Linked DNA regions of Homo sapiens: region 2 is linked to region 1. The links come from fine-mapping of genetic effects on gene expression. A gene starts in region 1. The other region holds a variant in brackets. All regions are shown on one strand. Distances are from middle to middle.

Region 1 (2,853 bases):
AATAGAGAATATAATGTGAATAGTGCCCCCTGGAAGTGTAAAGCTGCAGGGCTGAGTGTATTGTCCTGGGCCTTTGGAGCTTCAGGTGAATCCTGTTACATGTAATAGTAATAACAGAGCTAGTTATATTGTCACCATGTGCTATGCACTATTTTAGATGCTTTATGTATTTTATTTGATCCTCATAACTATCATATGAGAAAGGTACTATTGTTCATCCCTATTTCACAGGTAAGTAAACTGAAGCCCAAAGAAGCTTCATGACTTGTTCAAGGTCACACAGCAAGCAAGTGGCAGACCTAGAATCCAAACTCAGAATATGGTTCCCAACTCTGTACTTCTAACCCTATTCTATCTTTTTTATTTTTTATTTTTTTGAGACAGACTCTCCCTCTGTCGCCCAGGCTAGAGTGTAGTGGCACGATCTCAGCTCACTGCAGCTTTCGCCTCCCAGGTTCATGTGATTCTCATGCCTCAGCCTCCGGAGTAGCTGCAACCCTATTCTTTTTTCTTTTTTTTTTTTTTTGAGACGGAGTCTCGCTCGGTCACCCAGGCTGGAGTGCAGTGGCGCGATCTCGGCTCACTGCAACCTTCGCCTCCTGGGTTCAAGCGATTCTCCTGCCTCAGCCTCCCGAGTAGCTGGGACTACAGGCATGCACCACCACACCCGGCTTCTTCTGTGTGTGTGTGTGTGTGTGTGTGTGTGTGTATTTTTTGTAGAGAAGGGGTTTCACCGTGTTAGCTAGGATGGTCTCGACCTCCTGACTTCGTGATCCGCCTGCCTCGGCCTCCCAAAGTGCTGGGATTACAGGCGTGAGCCCCCGCGCCCGGCCGCTGCAACCCTATTCTATCTTGCCTGAGGGTTCCACTTTTCTCCATGACACTCTGGGGCAGGCTACAGATAGCACAGCACGCGCCCTCGCATTGCGCAGATGTGGCTCAGATCCCACGCTGCCATTCGGTAGATATGTGTCTTTAGATAAGTGACTTAACTTTCCCGAATTTTAGAGTCCTCATCTAAAGATTCTAATACCTTCCTGACAGAGTGAGTGTCTGGTTGGGAGGATTCCTCATTTACTTTCCCCATCTCTCTGCAAAGAGAAAGGAGTTAAAATTGCATGGAAGTCAAACCCGAAATTATAAAAGCGACATCAAACATGGGTGAAGGGAGGGAGACCTAAATCATTACTTAGTTTAAAAAAAAAATGTAACAAATACCTACTGGCTGCCAGGCACTCACTGGCATTGGTGCTCAGGGCAATGAATCCAGTCCATCTCTCCGGGTCATTCACACACCAAGGCCCTGCTCACCTTTGGAAAGCTGGGGGACTGAGTGGGGAGGGCACGGTGTGGTGTCAGCCTGAGCCCACTGGATGACCCTAATCACCAAACATCTGCTTCCTTCTCTGTAGCTGTGACCCTGATACCGCGTGGTGTGCTCCGAACACATGGTGCCCAGAACGAAGGCGGCGTCCAGAAGCCCTAGGTCCCAGAGGTCCGCTCAGCGGCAGGCGCATAAGGCGGGGCCGGCGCGGGCCTTTCCTTCCATCGGAACCGTTCTCCCGGGGCTGAGTCCCTGCCCGGACTCCGAACGCCGAAGACCAGGGGCCGGAAGCGCGCGCCGCCACTGCCACGCCGTGTCAGTCGGGAGGGAGGGAGCGAGCAGGCGAAGCCGCGGAGGACGGGGTGAAGATGGCGGCCTTCTCCGGTGCGTTTGTGGAAACTCTGGGGGTGGTGGGGCGGCTTGTTGCACGCCTCAGCCCTGGGGCCGCCCGCGGAGAGCTAAAGGGGCGGGAGCGGACAGGGGTCAGGGAGACAGAAGGGCGCTGTCCGCTGCAGTCCCTGATGGACCCGCGTTGCGGGATCAGGGGCGGCCGCGGCTCGGGTTCGGAGGACGATTCTTCCCAGGAGCGGGCCGGAACGTCCCTCCCCCTGCCCTTTCCCTTCTACCAGTCTCCACTTGGCTTTCCTGCCAGTGCACCTTCGGCTGCAAAATCTAGGCGGCGGCGTTGCTCTGGCGGCTCCCAGACGCCTGGGCCTCCTGCCTCTTAACGTGGCAGTGACCCTTTGGGAACCCTTTTCTGCCCGCGGCTCATCTGGGCTTGGCCAGGCAGAGAGGCGAGACGGCGTGGGGAGGAGTCATTGGGGAAAAATGACGATCCTGCCTCTGTCCAGTTTTTTCAGGCCCTTCCAAAACGTCCCAGGCATAAACCTGATCTTTATTTGTTCTTAAACGTTGTTATATCAACATTAATGTTCAGTGTTGAAGCTAAAGGGAAAGCATTTTCATTAACGTACGCACCAGTCCAACATAAGTTTGGAAAATTCATATTTATTTGCCGTCTGCTACCCTCCTTTATTCCAAATATGATTTGATATGGCTTATCGAACCCTACAGTTGATATTTTCGCCTCTTGCTTTATCATCCTCCTGTTAGGCATCCAGTTTTAGGAAGCTGTAATCAGCCTTAAATGCGCTAAACGTGATACATTTATGTAGCACTTATGTAACGTTTATTGCTATATAAATGTATCACGTTAGGCCTAATGTCCTTTAATGTTATTAACTTTTTAAGATGACTTCAGATGTAGTATTTTATATTTTTTAGTTTTCTTCTGTAAGAATATTAGGAATTCCATATCTCCAGTCATGTAAGATATTTTTTTTCTTTTTTGGGGGGGAGAATGGGGGGGTGGGGGGATGTAGTCTCCTTCTGTCGCCCCAGCTGGAGTGCAATGGTGTGATCTTGGCTCACTGCAGCCTCCACCTCCCAGGTTCAAGCAATTCTCCTGCCTCAGCCTCCTGAGTAGCTGGGATTACAGGCGCCTACCACCATGCCCTGCTCATTTTTGT
Region 2 (2,909 bases), 51 kb after region 1:
AGTGTCTCTTTCTGGATAGAGTAGGGTGTTTAGGACAGGTCTGGTTTCAGTATCCTCAGTACCTGAGGCAGATCTGGCTGAGAAAAGGTGATTTGGTAAATGTTTGTTGAGTTGGAGGGAAGTTTAGATGGATGGACAGGTAAATTATCACGAGAAACTTTTGTGAAGGAATTTTAGACACCAGCTAGCATAATTAGGGTGAGAAGTTACGATTTGTCAGCTAGTTAATTTGTATTTTTTGGGCAGGAGATCTGCACATCCTGAAAATTAGGCCACAGAAGTAGACAGGTTCTAAGCCTTGTCTTTCTCTTTAAACAGGGTTTGTGTTTTTCAGGCTGAAGCAGTACTAGCTTAACCCAGGACAACTGGTTACTTTAGAAGGAAATCTCCTCACCACTGCTGTCCTACACTCTGTCAATTCTTTCTGAGACACAGCAGCAACATCCACAGGTGGCAGGCAGGCTGTGCCTCAGGGCTTTGCACTCCATCTCCTCTGCAAGTCAGGAATATTTATTTTACTTGAAGGAAACAGATTCAAAGAGGTGAGGTAACAATTGAACAATAATACTTGGAGACTTCAATACACTGCTTTCAATAATGGATAGAACAACCAAACGGAAGATCAATAAGAAAACAGAAGACGTGACCAACACTGTGGACTCACTAGACCTAAAAGACATCTGTAGAACATACCACCCACGAGCAGCAGAATACACATCCTTCCCAAGTGTACATGGAACATTCTCCAGGATAGACCCTATGTGTAGAAGTCAATAACAGAAAGGACTTTGGGAAATTTACAAATATGTGAAAACCAACAGCATACTACTAAACAACCAATAAGTCAAAGAAGAAATCACAAGGGAAATTAGGAAATACTTTGAGATAAATGAAAAGGGAAACACAACATAGGAAATCTTATGGGAGTAGGTAAAGCAGTGCTTAGAGGGAAATGTATAGCTATGCATGACTATATTACAAAGGAAGAAAGATCCCAAATCAATAACCTAACCTTCCGCCTTAAAGCACTGGGGGAAAGAAAAAAGAACAAACTAAACCCAAAGCAAGCAGAAGGAAGGAAATAATAAAGATTAGAGCAAACATTAATGCAATAGAGAATAGAAAAACAGTTGAGAAAATCAACAGAACCAAAGGTTGGTATGTTGAGAAGATCAACAAAGCTGACAAACCTTTAGCTAGAAAGAGGTGAGGTAATTTTCCCAAGGTGACTCCAATAGCAAATGGCAGAGCCAAGATTCCAAAGCAGGACTGTCTAATGTCAAATCTGGGGTTGTAGCTTTGTCTCTCACCTGGACTAGGAGTGTGTCAAGGATCAGGAGCTTGTCTTACTCATGTGTGCATCCCCAGTGCTTTGCTCTGTGCCTGGCACACGTAGGGGCTCAGGAAATATTTGCTGAAGTAAAATGAAAAGTAAACCTCCTCCCCACCCTTAGCAACCATCTGTGTGAGATGATAAATTATGCTTCCAATGCAGATCAAGCTGAATTGCACTATTTCTGATGAGAAAAGCTGAAAACAGCAAACTGCTTGTCCTTAAAAATAAACCCTTCAGCTTCAGAGATTTGGCCCAGAAATGAACCGTGTTATAGCTCAAGCCCTGAGATTGAGT[G/T]TATTACCCTGGAGCCAGGGGTGATGGAATTTGTGACTGGAGAGAGAAACTCGATCACCTTGACCTGGCCGCTGGATGCAGACTGCAGGCTGGTCTGCCCTTGTTCCCGGTCCCGGGCCCCGGAGGCTGAACACCACTCACGGGAGGGCTGGCTCAGCTCAGAGGGACAGCTGATCCCACAGAGCTCAAGACACTGAATCGTGTCCGCAGACCGATAGAACAAGGGTTCAGCGATGGTTTCCCAGCTGAGCCAGACCACATGGAGCCTAGCTTCCTGATATTTCACAAGGGGTGAAATGTAAAGAATGTTGACTTTCATTAACCCAAGTGCATGTCAATATGTCCTGAAAGGCTGGGAGAAGGTGAGCCCAGGTAGATTCTAGAGCAGGATGCCACCACATGTTCAGGCTGGAGTGACATGGCCAGCTGTCCTGGGGGGCAGGGGAGGACAGAGACCCTTCACCAAATGCCATCTCTTCTTGGCCTCACAATGGCTGCGTGAGGACAGCAGGGTGCAGGCTGCTTGCCCATTTTCCAGAAGGACAAGATGAGGCCCTTAGAAGTTGCCCTACTCACAGCCGGTAGAAAAATGAATCCAGTTTCTTGGACTCCAACGTCTTTCTGCCCGTCCCCCGCCTCCCGACTCTCACCTCCTTGGAGGCTTACGGGGCTCTGTATAAGTTTCCCACAAAAAATCCGTGCTGCTGGGTGGAACGCGGGTGCTGTTCACATTCGTGTGTGGTTTTCCCTGGCTTATATGCAACAGCTTCTTTTTCTCTTTTCTTAATTTAAAGGTGACTCTTCTGGAAGTCCCCAAAGTGGAATTGACCCTAAATTGAAAAGAAGATCTTTCTAGGGCAAGAGCTTTGTTCTTGTGAATTTTCTGCCTCACCAACCATGGGGAATGTGAGCTGGGGGGGAAAAGTCTGTTAAAGCTGGTCATTCATTTCAGGGGGCCAAGGAGCGATTCTGAAGGAGCAAAGTCTCCTCATGCTCTTGGCCTTTTGATCTACTCAGGCTCTGTGGCAGGAAGACAGGGAGGAATCCCTGATCACCCACAGCCCTCCCCGCTGCTGTTAAGGCAGTATGATGATGGGGGGTGGAGCTGGAATTAAAAATAAAGAAATACAAGCTTGAATTCTACTTTAACATGAACAATCTCTAATTTTCATATCATAAAATGAATAAAATAATATTTTTTCCCATAGAAAGTGATGAACTGGTACATGTATTTTAACCAGTTGTAAAATGTCTCCTTCCCTGTATCTGTGTCTCCCGC

The links. PIP is the estimated chance that this variant, and not a neighbour inherited with it, causes the effect. A credible set is the group of variants that fine-mapping cannot tell apart.
Region 2: its variant is the best candidate, but not a certain one, in a credible set for the expression of DDX1 in esophagus mucosa (GTEx, PIP 0.74).

What each region holds. Positions count from the first base shown.
Region 1 is chr2:15,590,242-15,593,094 of GRCh38, forward strand. It overlaps DDX1 (DEAD-box helicase 1), which reads left to right and starts at 1,627. Exons shown (of 26, transcript NM_004939.3): 1 at 1,627-1,708. The coding sequence starts at 1,693. LOC124905975 (a long non-coding RNA gene) reads right to left here and starts at 1,528. Exons shown (of 2, transcript XR_007086224.1): 1 at 1,219-1,528; 2 at 1-1,091. RefSeq lists an enhancer at 1,666-1,725.
Region 2 is chr2:15,640,717-15,643,625 of GRCh38, forward strand. No RefSeq gene overlaps it. Among named protein-coding and RNA genes, the nearest start is that of LINC01804, 49 kb to the right of the region's middle. The variant G/T (reference allele first, on the strand shown) is at 1,631.